4 linked regions of the Homo sapiens genome follow. The protein of the gene in region 1 interacts with the protein of each later gene in a biochemical or structural test. Each region holds a gene or a part of one and is shown in the gene's direction. Other genes may lie near its edges.

The links.
Region 2: the proteins of PTPA (region 1) and RACGAP1 form a complex in vitro, tested with the Homo sapiens proteins (one study listed by BioGRID).
Region 3: of the proteins of PTPA (region 1) and EIF4EBP1, one has a biochemical effect on the other in vitro, tested with the Homo sapiens proteins (one study listed by BioGRID).
Region 4: the proteins of PTPA (region 1) and CYLD form a complex in vitro, tested with the Homo sapiens proteins (one study listed by BioGRID).

What each region holds. Positions count from the first base shown.
Region 1 is NC_000009.12:129,117,915-129,121,414, forward strand, and holds part of PTPA (serine/threonine-protein phosphatase 2A activator), read left to right. Parts: intron 1-2,598; coding exon 2,599-2,696; intron 2,697-3,500. UniProt on the Homo sapiens protein: PPIases accelerate the folding of proteins. It catalyzes the cis-trans isomerization of proline imidic peptide bonds in oligopeptides. Acts as a regulatory subunit for serine/threonine-protein phosphatase 2A (PP2A).
Region 2 is NC_000012.12:49,997,995-50,001,494, reverse strand, and holds part of RACGAP1 (rac GTPase-activating protein 1), read left to right. Parts: intron 1-242; coding exon 243-323; intron 324-1,761; coding exon 1,762-1,879; intron 1,880-2,223; coding exon 2,224-2,354; intron 2,355-3,500.
Region 3 is NC_000008.11:38,033,534-38,037,033, forward strand, and holds part of EIF4EBP1 (eukaryotic translation initiation factor 4E-binding protein 1), read left to right. Parts: intron 1-3,500. UniProt on the Homo sapiens protein: Repressor of translation initiation that regulates EIF4E activity by preventing its assembly into the eIF4F complex: hypophosphorylated form competes with EIF4G1/EIF4G3 and strongly binds to EIF4E, leading to repress translation.
Region 4 is NC_000016.10:50,773,086-50,776,585, forward strand, and holds part of CYLD (ubiquitin carboxyl-terminal hydrolase CYLD), read left to right. Parts: intron 1-2,080; coding exon 2,081-2,089; intron 2,090-3,093; coding exon 3,094-3,192; intron 3,193-3,500. UniProt on the Homo sapiens protein: Deubiquitinase that specifically cleaves 'Lys-63'- and linear 'Met-1'-linked polyubiquitin chains and is involved in NF-kappa-B activation and TNF-alpha-induced necroptosis.

The sequences.
Region 1 (3,500 bases):
TCTGGAACTCCTGACCTCAAATGATCCACCTACCTCAGCCTCCCAAAGTTCTGGGATTACAGGTGTGAGTCACCATGCCGGACCTGGGCATATCATTATTTACCCATTGTCTTATCAACTGATATTTGAGTTGTTTCTTTTTTTTTTTTTTCCCCCGAGATGGAGTCTTGCTCTGTCAACCAGAGCTGGAGCGCAATGGCACGATCTCAGCTCACTGTAACCTCTGCCTCCTGGGTTCAGGCAATTCTCCTGCCTCAGCCTCCTGAGTAGCTAGGATTACAGGTGTGCGCCACCACACTTGGCTAATTTTTGTATTTTTAGTAGAGATGGGGTTTCACCTTGTTGGCCAGGCTGGTTTCGAACTCCTGATCTCGTGATCTGCCTGTCTTGGCCTCCCAAAGTGCTGGGATTACAGGTGTGAGCCACCACGCCCAGCCTATTTGGGTTGTTTCTAATTAATAAAAAATTTTTTTATTTGAGTCAGAGTTTCACTCTTGTTGCCTAGGCTGGAGTGCGATGGCACGATCTTGGCTCACTGCAACCTCTGCCTCCTGGTTCAAGCAATTCTCCTTCCTCAGCCTCCCAAGTAGCTGGGATTATAGGCATGCGCCACCACACCTGAATAATTTTATATTTTTAGTAGAAATGGGGTTTCACTATGTTGGTCAGGCGCATCTCCAACTCCTGACCTCAGGTGTGATCCACCCACTTTGGCCTCCCAAAGTGCTGGGATTGTAGGCATGAGCCACCGCGCCCCGCCTAAAATTTTTTTTTTTTTAAAGTAGAGATGGGGTCTCGCTGTGTTGCCCAGGTTGGTGTCAAACTCCTGGACTCAAGTGATCCTCCCACCTGGGGCTCCCAAAGTGCTGAGATTACAGGTGTGAGCCACTATGCCCAGCTTTTTTTTTTTTTTTTGATGCATTAAACACCTTTGTGTTTCCGTGAGCACATCTGAAAGATAGATTCCTGTAAGTAGACCTGTTGACTCATTGTGTATATGCAGTTTTTTATTCCAAAAGATTGTCCCCTTAGGAGGTCCTTCCCACCCACAGAGCGGGAGAATTCTTGTTTCCTCTTCCTGGAATCTTGTTTTGTTTTTATTGAGACAGAGTCTCGTTCTGTTGTCCAGGCTGGAGTGCAGTGGTATGATCTCAGCTCACTGCAACCCCCACCTCCTGGACTCAGGTGATCCTCCTGCTTCAGCCTCCCAAGTAGCTGGGACTACAGGTATGCAACCACACCCAGCTAATTTTTAAATTTTTTTTGTAAAGATGGCGTTTTGCCAAGTTGGCCAGCCTGGTCTTGAACCCCTGGCCTCAAGTGATCTGCCTGCCTTGGCCTCCCAAATTGCTGGGATTAGGTATGAGCCACCACACCTAGCCAGATGTTTTTAATTTGCCAACCTTATCCAGAAAGAGAAATCACATATAATTTACGTGTCCGTGCTTATTCAGGAGGTTGGCAATTTATTCCAAATGTTTACTGCAATTAGGTTTTTTTTTTTTTTTTGAGACGAAGTCTCGCTCTGTTGCCTGGGTTGGAGTGCAGTGGTGCAATCTCGGCTCACCACAAGCTCCGCCTCCCAGGTTCACGCCATTCTTCTGCCTCAGCCTCCCAAGTAGCTGGGACCGCAGGCGCCCGCCACCACGCCTGGCTAATTTTTTTGTACTTTTTTAGTAGAGATGGGATTTCACCATGTTAGCCAGGATGGTCTCGATCTCCTTACCTTGTGATCTGCCTGCCTTGGCCTCCCAAAGTGCTGGGATTACAGGCGTGAGCCACCGCACCTGACCTGTTTTTTTTTCTTCTGTGAATTGCCTGTGTATGTCTGAAACATCAACTTGGTTTTATTTTTCTAACGGTTCTGCTCTGGGGGGGAGAGGGAAGGGAGGGCATGGTTATTGAAGGGATTGTCAGTATTGCCCTTCTCTTTCCTCCCCAGAGTGAGGGAGGGCAGGAGGCTGTGGGTTTGGCTTAACAAGCCCTTACTCTGTCCTGGAAGTATGTGTCTGGTTTATTCTAAGGCTCAGGTGTTGGAGTCCTGGTTTAAAAGTGAGAGAGAGGCCGGGCGCTTTGGCTCATACCTGTAATCCCAACACTTTGGAGGCCAAGGCGGGTGGATCACCTGAGGTCAGGAGTTTGCGATCAGCCTGGCCAACATGGTGAAACCCCGTCTCTACTAAAAATGCAAAAATTAGCTAGGCATGGTGACATACGTCTGTAATCCCAGCTACTCAGAACACTGAGGCAGGAGAATCGCTTGAACCCGGGAGGCAGAGGTTGCAGTGAGCTGAGATCGCGCCACTGCACTCCAGCCTGGGCGACAGAGCGAGACTCTGTCTCAAAGAAAAAAAAAAAAATTAGCTGGGTGTGGTGGCACGTGCCTGTAATCTCAGCTACTCAGGAGACTGAGGCAGGAGAATCGCTTGAACCCTGGAGGTGGAGGTTGCATTGAGCCAAGATCGTGTCACTGGACTCCAGCCTGGGCAACAAGAGCAAAACTCCGTCTCAAGAAAAAAAAAAAAGGTGAAAGGGAGTGTGTGTGTTGTAGGGGAGGATTCTATTTATCTGTTTGTTTTTTCATTTTTTTTTGTCAAGATTCTTCAGAGGAGGCCCCTCCAGCCACTCAGAACTTCATCATTCCAAAAAAGGAGATCCACACAGTTCCAGACATGGGCAAATGGAAGCGTTCTCAGGTACCATTTGGAACTGTGGTGAGAAACTTGGGCTTTTCAAAGACAGTGGTTTTCCTAGCATGACGGGCGGTGAGTTCCTGGCCCTTCTTGCTCTTGGAGCCTGACTTTTCAGAAGCTAGGGAGAAAGGTGACAGGGGAGCTGGCTGTCTCTTCCCTTCAGAGGCAGTACTCAGAGATGCTTTATCAGGAAGGTTGCCTACTTTTTCAGGCTGCTGCCAGGGTAGCCCGGGAGAGTTCCGCTCCTGGTTCTCTTAAGCCATTGCCCCTTGAGTGTTGCTGTATTGGCTGAACATGAGTGTTTGAAATGATGGAGCGAGTCACTTTGATTCTTGGCTGCAAGTAACAGCAAGTGTGGCAGCCAGTGCCTCAAGGGGAGAAGAGGCTATCTCATGGAAACTTTGGCCAGGGATATGGCTAAGCCTGCAAATACCTGGGAGCTGGGACCCAGAGCACTGGGCACAGACTGGCTTTCTCTGCTGCTCAGCTGAAATGATGGGCAGAAGATAACTACTTGTACCTCTCAGGCTTGTGGTACAGGCTGTGGAAAGACAGACTGAGCAAAAGAAAGCCAATTTCAATTTCTCAGGGAAGGCCTCTGGCCCAGTTCTCGTCAGGCTCCTGCTCCCGGCCTGGTGAGCTGGGCTGGAGAGTGTTGCTCATGCAGAAGGCTGGGCACAGGGGTCCTTGCATGCTGGGCAGATTCTCCAGGAGACCCACACCCTACAGCTTCTATGCCTTGTCCTCACTGGGGCTTGGGGCCATCTAAACCTGTCTGATTCCTTTTTCACAAGCCTGCCCTCTCAG
Region 2 (3,500 bases), on another chromosome or scaffold:
CTCCATAGCTTGCTCATTTTTTCTAGGGCACTGAGAGCATTTTTGTACAACATATTCTTTTGAAACAGCTTATTCTTCATGTGGAAATAGGCAAAGAGAGAGAGAGAGAGAACACATTGTTTGTTATTTACTGTAGCCCTAATCCCCAGGACCTGTATCCAAGTTGTTTGATGGAATAATTTTATCTTCTGTGCTTCAGATCTGCTTGGCATTAAAGTTACGGGTCTTTGTCTCCTTTCTAGCGCTCTACTAGCCGACAGTTTGTTGATGGTCCCCCTGGACCTGTAAAGAAAACTCGTTCCATTGGCTCTGCAGTAGACCAGGTAAGAATAGTCAGGCCAAGGTAACAGAGATTACTGGCCCCAAGCATTAAAACTTCTCTGAGTCAGCATTGCAGCATTGTTTTGAGAGACATGATGTTTAGTTAAAGTTTTTGTTTGTTTTTTGAGACAGAGTTTTGTTCTTGTAGCCCAGGCTGGAGTGCAATGGCACCATCTTGGCTCACTGTAACCTCCACCTTCCAGGTTCAAGTGATTCTCTTGTCTCAGCCTCCCACGTAGCTGGGATTACAGGCGCATGCCACCACGTCTGGCTAATTTTTGTATTTTTAGTAGAGACAGGGTTTCATCATATTGGTCAGGCTGGTCTCGAACTCCTGACCAGGTGATCTACCTGCCTCAGCCTCCCAAAGTGCTGGGATTACAGGCGTGAGCCTCCGTGCCTGGCCTTTGGTTAAAGTTTTTCTATGCAGTAGGATCCTTATCCCTATGAATGGAATTACTCTGATGTAGTAAACAACTGTCAGAGTGAGTCTTAGTTGCTTGAATATATACCCCCATGACCTATGTTTATCTTCTTAGGTACGAGATTTCTTTATTTTTACTTTTTAAAGTAGAGGGGGAGTCTCTCCTTGCTGCCCAGGATGACTCGAACTGCGGGGCTCAAGTGATCTTCCCACCTTGGCCTCCCAAAATGCTGGGATTGCAGGCATGAGCCACTGCACCCAGCCAAACATCAGATTTCAACATAAGAATGTTTCAGGTCAGGCGTGGTGGCTCACGCCTGTAATCCCTGCACTTTGGGAGGCCTAGGCAGGTGGATGATCACCTGAGGTCAGGAGTTCGAGACCAGCCTGGTCAACATGGCGAAATCCCGTCTCTACTAAAAATACAAAAATCAGTCGGCCAGGCGCGGTGGCTCACGCCTGTAATCCTAGCACTTTGGGAGGCTGAGGCGGGTGGATCACGAGGTCAGGAGATTGAGACCATCCTGGCTAACACAGTGAAACCCCATCTCTACTAAAAATACAAAAAATTAGCTGGGCATGGTGGCAGACGCCTGTAGTCCCAGCTACTCGGGAGGCTGAGGCAGGAGAATGGCGTGAACCCGGGAGGTGGAGCTTGCAGTCAGCCGATATTGGGCCACTGTACTCCAGCGTGGGCGACACAGCGAGACTCCGTCTCAAAAAAAAAAAAATCAGTCAGGTGTGGTGGCGCATGCTTGTAATCCCAGCTACTCAGAAGGCTGAGGCAGGAGAATGCCTTGAACCTGGGAGGCGGAGGTTGCAGTGAGCCGAGATCACGCCACTGTTCTCCAGCCTGGGCGGTAGAGTGAAAAACTCTGTCTCAAAAAAAAAGTATCAGACTGGGGTCTTAAGTCTTGACTAAGACTAAGGAATTTTTTACCTGCTCCAAAATACCCTATAGTGGAGGGTAAGTTAGATTCTTTGTTTGTCTTTCCTCATTACTACTTTTGTTGCAGGGGAATGAATCCATAGTTGCAAAAACTACAGTGACTGTTCCCAATGATGGCGGGCCCATCGAAGCTGTGTCCACTATTGAGACTGTGCCATATTGGACCAGGAGCCGAAGGAAAACAGGTCCATTGAATTTGTGACTAAACTGGCCTGTGTAAAACAACTAGCAAAATTTTGGAGAGTTGGTTTCTTAGAACCCTCTGGAGGCGGGGATTGGATGTATTGGGTAGTTTCTTACTGCTGCATACCGAGGACCAGAGAACTGCTTGTGTCATGCTTTACCTTTGAATTGCTAGCCCACTGGCATAACTTTAGTTTTTCTTGAAACTGTTTTTTTACATAGCCATTAGTTCTCACTTTTGGCTATGATAACAGATTACTGTTTATCTCCCAGTTAAAATTGGAGCTAAAATTTAGAAGGAGCAAAATACTTAAGACACAAAGCTTAAAAGTTGCTTGTTTTCTAGGTACTTTACAACCTTGGAACAGTGACTCCACCCTGAACAGCAGGCAGCTGGAGCCAAGAACTGAGACAGACAGTGTGGGCACGCCACAGAGTAATGGAGGGATGCGCCTGCATGACTTTGTTTCTAAGACGGTAAATCTGTGATTGTTGTTTGTGTTTTAATTTTTTAATTGTGAAAGTAATAAATACCAGGAATAAAGTTAAATACTTTAGTGTTATAAAGTTAAATGTCAAATTTCCTTCCTCATTCCAATTTTACTCTCCAGAAGTAACTATTGGTTACAGAGGTAAGTTTCTTTCCATTCTGTGAGTAATACTAAATTAAAGAGACCAACTTTTCTGAAGCAATTGTTAGTACTTTTTTTTTTTTAATTTGAGACAGAGTCTTACTCTGTCACCCAGGCTGGAGTGCAGGGGTGTAATCATAGCTCACTGTAGCCTTAACCTCCCAGTCTCAAGCAATCCTCCTGCCTCAGCCTCCTGAGTAGTAGGGATACAGATGTGTGCCACCACGCCCGGCTAATTTTTAAATTTTTTGTAGAGACTTGGTCTTGCTATGTTGCTCAGGCTGGTCCTGAACTCCTGGGCTCAAGTGCTCCCCCTGCCTCAGCTCCCAAAGTCCTGGGATTACAGGCATGAGCTACTGTGCCTGGCCCATTGTTAGTACTTTTTAGTGACACATGTTTACATTTTTTCTTGAATATATCACCTAAGATTTTCAAAATGTTTTGCTTTTGTACCATTTTATTTCCTTATAAAAATCCAAGCAAATTAACTGAGGCTCAGAGGAGTTAACTGACATTTTTGAGCCACATGATAGTAAGTGACAGATTTCACATCCAGGTTTTCTTTTTTTCTTTTTTTTTCTTGAGACAGAGTCTCACTCTGTTGCCCAGGCTGGAGTGCAGTGGTGCGATTTCGGCTCACTGCAACCTCTGCCTCCCGGGTTCAAGCAATCCTCCTGCCTCAGCCTCCCGAGTAGCTGGGATTACAGGTGCCCACCACCATGCCCGGCCAATTTTTTGTACTTTTAGTAGAGATGGGGTTTCACCATGTTGGCCAGGCTGGTCTCAAACTACTGACCTCAGGTGATCCTCCCGCCTCAGCCTCCCAAAGTGCTGGGATTACAGGCGTGAGCCACCATGCCCTGCCAACATCCAAGTTTTCTGCTCTTTGTAAACAAGTTCTTTCCACTATCACACACTGCTGCCTTCCAGTGGGATGACCTTAAACAAGTTACTTAAACTCTCTTTGCTTCTGTTTCCTCATCTTAAAATG
Region 3 (3,500 bases), on another chromosome or scaffold:
GTGTGGAGAGCCAGGCTTTTGATAGAGTGTCTGCATGGCTGTCTGCACCTGCTTACTTATAGGGACTGTCAGCTTCTCAGGAAAAACCATTGGAGTAAGTACCCCCCAGTCACTCCTGCTGGGAATGGCCCTCAAGTGATTGTCCCTGGAGGGAAAGAAGCAGCAGTTGGGTTGCACTATCTCCATTCCTATGACTCCAGTTTGCTTTCCTTTTTTTTTTTTTTTTTTTTTGAGATGGAGTTTCGCTTTGTCGCCCAAGCTGGAGTGCAATGGTGAGATCTTGGCTCACTGCAAGCTCCGCCTCCCGGGTTCACGCCATTCTCTTGCCTCAGCCTCCCAAGTAGCTGGGACTACAGGCGCCCGCGATCAAGCCCGGCTGATTTTTTGTGTTTTTAGTAGAGACAGGGTTTCACCGTGTTAGCCAGGATGGTCTCGATCTCCTGACCTCGTGATCCGCCTGCATTGGCCTCCCAAAGTACTGGGATTACAGGCGTGAGCCACTGCACCCGGCCCTTTTTTTGTTTTTTTCCTGAGACAGGGTCTCATGGTGTCACCCAGGCTGGAGTACAGTGGCACAAACATAGCTCACTGCAGTCTCAAACTCCTGGGCTCAAGTGATCCTCCTGCCTCAGCCTTGCAAGTAGCTGGGACTATAGGCACGTGCCACCATGCCCTGCTAATTTTTTTATTTTTTTGTAGAGGCAGGGTCTCTATGTATTACCCAGGCTGGCCTCAAACTCCTGGGCTCAAGCAGTCCTCCCACCTCAGCCTCCCAAACTGCTGGGATTGTAGGCATGAGTCACCTCACCTGGCCTCCAGTTTGCTTTCCATGGTCATTAACCATTTGCACACTGAGGCTCTGCTCTGAGGTTAGCTGTCCAGAGTACTTAAGATAATTTAATTGCCGAAGGGAGTGTCATGTATGAATATTTGAGTCTGTGGAGTCTTAAAAATATCCAGCGACACCATAAACAGCTCATTAGCCAGCAGAACCTTTGAGTGGGTCAGAAAGAAACTTTCCCTCATCAATCTCCACATTCCCAGCTCCGTGTTGCATGTTTGACTCTGAAGCCTATATACAGGCTTGGATGGCAGTTGTGCCAAAGACCCGTACCTGGATAAGGTGAATCCGAGGTGAGCAGGTAGGGCTGCAGGTGTTAATGGCACCCTGTTTGGTTAAGCAAACAAGGTCTGTGCCCAGGAAGCTTACCTTGGAGCAGCTCCCAAGTCTTTGGACATGAAACAGGCAGTGCTGGGAAGAAGGGGATGTAGGCTGGGCACCAAAGCCAGAGCACAGCCCATGTCCTGAGGCCTTAGTCACATGGAGGGAAGAAATTATTAAGGATGGGTTAAAAGAGCTTGGACATTAATGCAGTGAGGGAGAAACGATGGACCCTCTTCTCACATTTACCTGAGCTTCCTTTTAAAGTGTTTGAAGGAGCTGGGTGCGGTGGCTCACTCCTGTAATCCCAGCTATTAGGAAGGCTGAGACAGGAAAATTACTTGAGGCCAGGAGTTCAAGACCAGCCTGAGCAACATAGTGAGACTCTGTCGGTATAAATTAAATAAATAAAATTTTTTAAAGTGTTGGAAGCATTCCACACTGTGTCCCTTATTAAAGATTTGGTGGGGGGTTCCTGGTGTAGAGCACTCCAAAATCCCTCCAATCCCCAGACTCCTTTTTATTATTATTATTATTTTGAGACAGAGTTTCGCTCTTGTTGCCCAGGCTGGAGTGCAGTGGTGCAATCTTGGCACACTGCAACCTACGCCTCCTGGGTTCAAGTGATTCTCCTGCCTCAGCCTCCCAAGTAGCTGGGATTACAGGCATGTGCCACCACACCCGGCTAATTTTTGTATTTTTATTAGAGACAGGGTTTCACCATGTTAGTCAGGCTGGTCTCAAACTCCTGACCTCAGGTGATCCACCCGCCTCAGCTTCCCAAAGTGCTGGGATTACAGGCATGAGCCACCACACCCGGCCTTATTATTTTATTTTATTTTATTTTATTTTTGAGGCAGTCTAACTCTGTCGCCCAGGCTAGAGTGCAGTGGCATGATTTCAGCTCACTGCAGCCTCCACCTGCCAGGTTCAGGCTGAGACAGGAGAATCCCGGGTAGCTGGGATGACAGGCACGCACCACCATGCCCAGCTAATTATTTATTTATTTATTTATTTATTATTATTTTCCTCAAGATGGAGCCTTGCTCTGTCGCCCAGGCTGGAGTGCAATGGTGCGATCTCGGCTCACTGCAACCTCCACCTCCTGGGTTCAAGCAATTCTCCTGCCTCAGCCTCCCGAATAGCTGGGTTTACAGGCGCGCTACCACGCCTGGCTAATTTTTTGTATTTTTAGTAGAGATGGGGTTTCACCACGTTGGCCAGGCTGGTCTCGAACTCCTGACCTCGTGATCCGCCCGCCTCAGCCTCCCAAAGTGCTGACATTACAGCCATGAGTCACCGCGCCCGGCCTATTTTATTTTATTTTTGAGGCAGAGTCTCATTCTGTCACCCAGGCTGGAGTGCAGTGGCACCGTCTCAGCTCACTGCAGCATCCGCCTCCTGAGTTCAAGCAATTCTCCTGCCTCGGCCTCCCGAGTAGCTGGGACCACAAACCCGGCTATTTATTTTTGTAGAGACAGGGTCATGCTTTGCTTCTGAGTCTGACCCTCTAGTTTTTTATTATTTGAAAGGAGAGGCCAGGTGCGATGGCTCACACCTGTAATCCCAGCACTTTGGGAGGCTAAGCAGATCACCTGAGGTCAGGAGTTCAAGACCAGCTTGGCCAACATGGTGAAACCCCATCTCTAATAAAAATACAAAAAAAAATTAGCCGGGCCTGGTGGCAGGCGCCTGTAATCCCAGCTACACAGGAGGCTGAGGCACGAGACTCACTCGAACGATTCTGGGTGACAAGAGTGAAACTCCGTCTCAAAGAAAAAAGAGAGAGAGTTTGATTTTTTTGCTTCCTAAAAGACCAAAAAAGTCCTTCATTGCCAAATCTGAGGAAAAAGGGTCAGCAGAGCAATACCATATTTATCCATTGACATAAAGTAGCGAGGCATTTTCTCATATAGACCTTTATTTTCATGTTCTGGAAGATGAGTTAGGAAGGCACAGCAATATTGTTTCTTCTTTTTTTTTTAATTTGAAACAGGGTCTCACTTTGTCACCCAGGCTGGAGTGCAGTTGCAGCCTCAACCTCCTGGGCTCAAGCAATCCTCCCATCTCAGCCTCCCAAGTAGCTGGGACTACAGGCATGCACCACCACAACCGGCTAATTTTTGTATTTTTTGGTAGAGATGAGGTTTCGCCATGTTGCCCAGGCTGGCCTCAAACTCCTGAGCTCAAGTAATCCACCCGCCTTGACCTCCCAAAGTTCTGGGATTAGAGGCATGCTCCACTGTGCTTGGCCTGGGAAGGCACAGCAATATTGAAAAAAAGGAACATTGCTTTCTAAGGTGAGTTTTAAAAAAAAAAAATGTTCAGTTGTGCACAT
Region 4 (3,500 bases), on another chromosome or scaffold:
AAGATTTCTGTGGATGTTAAATTCTCATTTGAGTCTGAATTATGCTCTTGTGGCTGCTGATGTTAAGCGGTACATTAATTAAACAATTTCTCTTAATTTACTGGGTCATTCAAATTCATAGACATTTCATTTGATTTGAACAATAACTTGTTCACTAGTTTATTGTTATGATTTCCTGCTCAAGATTCTCCAAGGGATTTTTCTTTTTCTGGTTAAATCAACAAGTGATGGATAAGCTGTGAATTTTATCATTTAAATGCAATCTTGCTGTGTATACATAATGGATACTTTTGGTTTGGTTTCTTTTGCTGAACACAATGTCCATGTTGCCCTGTTTATCAGTAGTTTGTTCCTTTTTTATTGCTATGTAGTATTCCATTGTATGAATAGACCATAATTTGTTTCTCTATTCTTCTGTAGAATAGCTTGTTTCCAGCTTTTGATTAGAATGAATAGGGCTGCTCTGTACATTTTTACTCATGCTGTTTGGTGGAATTATCTTCTATATCTTTTAATATCTTTAATCAGGTTTGTTTTAATCACACAAAATTGCCAGCTGAATTTATCTTACCTTGCTTTCCATCCCATATTTATCTTTTTCTGAGTTGGTAATCACTTATAATTCATTTAACTTTGAAAGCTTTGCTTCATGACCCAAGTAGTTTTGGGCCATGAACACAGTTGTGACAAAGTAATAAGAAATATTTGGTGTGTAATTGCTGGAGGGCAATTAGAGGTGGTTTGTGCCCCTTTGTCTGTATAGAATTCTGATGGAATGTCTTCTTCTTCAGAGCTGATATTTGACCCCCTCTCAGACAGCCTTTGACAGAAGGTAGCCACAGTTTCCAACTCCAGTGCCCCCCTGCTCACATTCCTAATCTTTGGAGCTCCTCCCTAGTGTCACCTGCAGAACTGTCACCACCGGCCATCCAGTTGGCTCTCCAGTCCTGCCAGGCTACCTTCAAAGCCTAACAAAGGGAAGAGCACTTGCTTCATTTGTTATAATGGTTACTAACTATATAATGGATCTATATCGTGGTATACATGTGAACATACTTTAAAAATGTTATATGCAGTTAATTACAGTTAATAGTGGGAGTTGTTTTTCTTTAGGAAATTTATATGCTATAATTTAGGAACTCTTCTCAGTGACTAAGATTTTCCTTCTGAAGTATCTGTCATGGGTGCTATTTAAAGATATCTGAATGACAACATCATAAAAGAACAGTGGTCTCCTCTTTCATCAAGGGATACTTCCAAGACCCCCAGTGGATACCTGAAACTATGGATAGTACTGAACCCTACGTATACTGTGTTTTTCCTCTACATTCATGCCTCTGATAAAGTTTAATTTATATATTAGGCACAATAAGATATTGAAAACAATAATCAGAGAAGAGACAATAATAACAATATGGCAACATCACTACTCGTGTACTTCAGGACTATTATTAAGTAAAATAAGGGTGACTTGAATGTAAGCACTGTGATACTGCAATAGTTGATCTGATGACTGAGGTGGCTACTAAGTGACTAACAAGGCAGGGAGTAGACACAGTGTGGAGATGCTGGACGGGGATGGGTTACGTCAGGGGTTATGGATTAGGATGGTGCAAGATTTCGTTATAATACTCAAAACAGCATGCAACTTAAAACTTACGAATTGTCTGTTTCTGCAATTTTTTATTTAATATTTTTGGACAGTGGTTGACTGTGGGTAACTGATACCGTGGAAGGTAAAAGTGTGGATAAGTGGGGACCACAGTATTAGTACATAGCTTTTCTCTTATTATATCACTTGATCGAAATCGTGGTTAATTGGTATAATTTTTGAATTAAAATATTTTCATATTCTATTGGATCATATTATGAGATGTTTAAGATATAGTTTAATAACACATCCCCCTCCTCTTTCAACCATGGAAAAAAGTTACCAAGTATTTACATATAATTCATTTAGTAAATTTCCTCTTTTTTTAAGAAAAGTCTTTTCCTTGTGTTTAAAATGTAAAAATTTTCCTATTTCTTTCTTTCTGTCCTCAAATCCACTGTGGGTGATATCGTTTTTGCTGACACACAGCTTTATCAGGTATGACTCCTAAGTGTCGTGTTGGACTCCACGGATGTATTGTTGAATTTTTCAAAGGAAGAACTTTTCACACTGCCTCTTCTACATTCCCTTGATCAGTATTTAGGAGTATTCTATGATCATTGCTGGGCTTTAAGGTCTAGAGTGGTCTTTGTATTCAAAACAAGTTTGCCACACTTATTACACCTATATTTCAGAAATAATTGTGAGTGTTTTCTTCAAATATATTATTGTTGTGTGTCTCTGGCTTTCTGTATTTTTAATCTATGCATAATTCTCTATGTTTTCCTCTTTTATATGTATAAGTGTTTGTATACACATCTGTGTTATTCTTAACATATATGTTTTTAAAAACAGATATATGTTCTTAACCAGAACTTTCTTTCCTAACCATGATACATATTCCTAACCAGGCTTTTTTCAAACTGTGTTCATGAAATAATATTAATCTGAGATGCTAAGCAAAGTGGCACAAAAATTTTTATCAATAAGTTTATTTTGTTTCTCCCTGAGCAGTTCACAATGCACATTAGCATATTAAAGGCTCTGGTTCCGTGCAGTAAAGAAATTGTTTATCTTTGTTTATCTCAGCATCTTCAAGAAATATTTGAGTTCGAAACACTTCATAATACACAGGGGTGTTCTAAGCCTGCTGATTTGGGAAATGCTGTAAAAAACCGAGTAAGATTTTCTTTGTAGTGTTTTAAGAGATCAAATAAAATTGACTACAAGTGATTAAATTTTCAAGAGGTTAAAGCATTTAGCTGAATTGTATTTTGAGAGGGTATTTTCTTATAGAAATTACATTTTGAAATACAGCATTGGTTTTTTCCCCCATAGTATTATCTTTTTCAATACTTTTGATGGCCTTTAAAAGGCATTTGTAAAACTAAAAATTCTGCCTTTTTGTGGAAAGAGGGTTTTTTTATTTTGTTACTGTCATTCCTTGTTTCTCTTCTATAAGAATTTGCCTTTATCTTTAAAAAACATGCTTACTGTTTCAGAGAGTGTGACGCAGGAAAGGAGGCCTCCCAAACTTGCCTTTATGTCAAGAGGTGTTGGGGACAAAGGTTCATCCAGTCATAATAAACCAAAGGCTACAGGTATGGATTAATAGCATATAACCTTTAGTAATTTGCATAATGCCTAACTTGCCATAGCATTAAAAAAGATTATAAGCTATTACTTCTGAACATGTATGTAGACTTTTTTTCTTTCAAACATTTTTAGTAGTGAAACTAAAGTTTGTATATAAATACTGTTGCTTAAGCCAAGTGTTCCCAGCCTTTTTTACCTCAGGAAGAGTTCCCCATAGGGTCTTGTGTGTTTTGCTGGTCTATAATCAAATGGTTTTTGGAACTCCTTACTTGGAATATTTGTATGTATAGTTTAGGATTGCAACTGTGTAAAA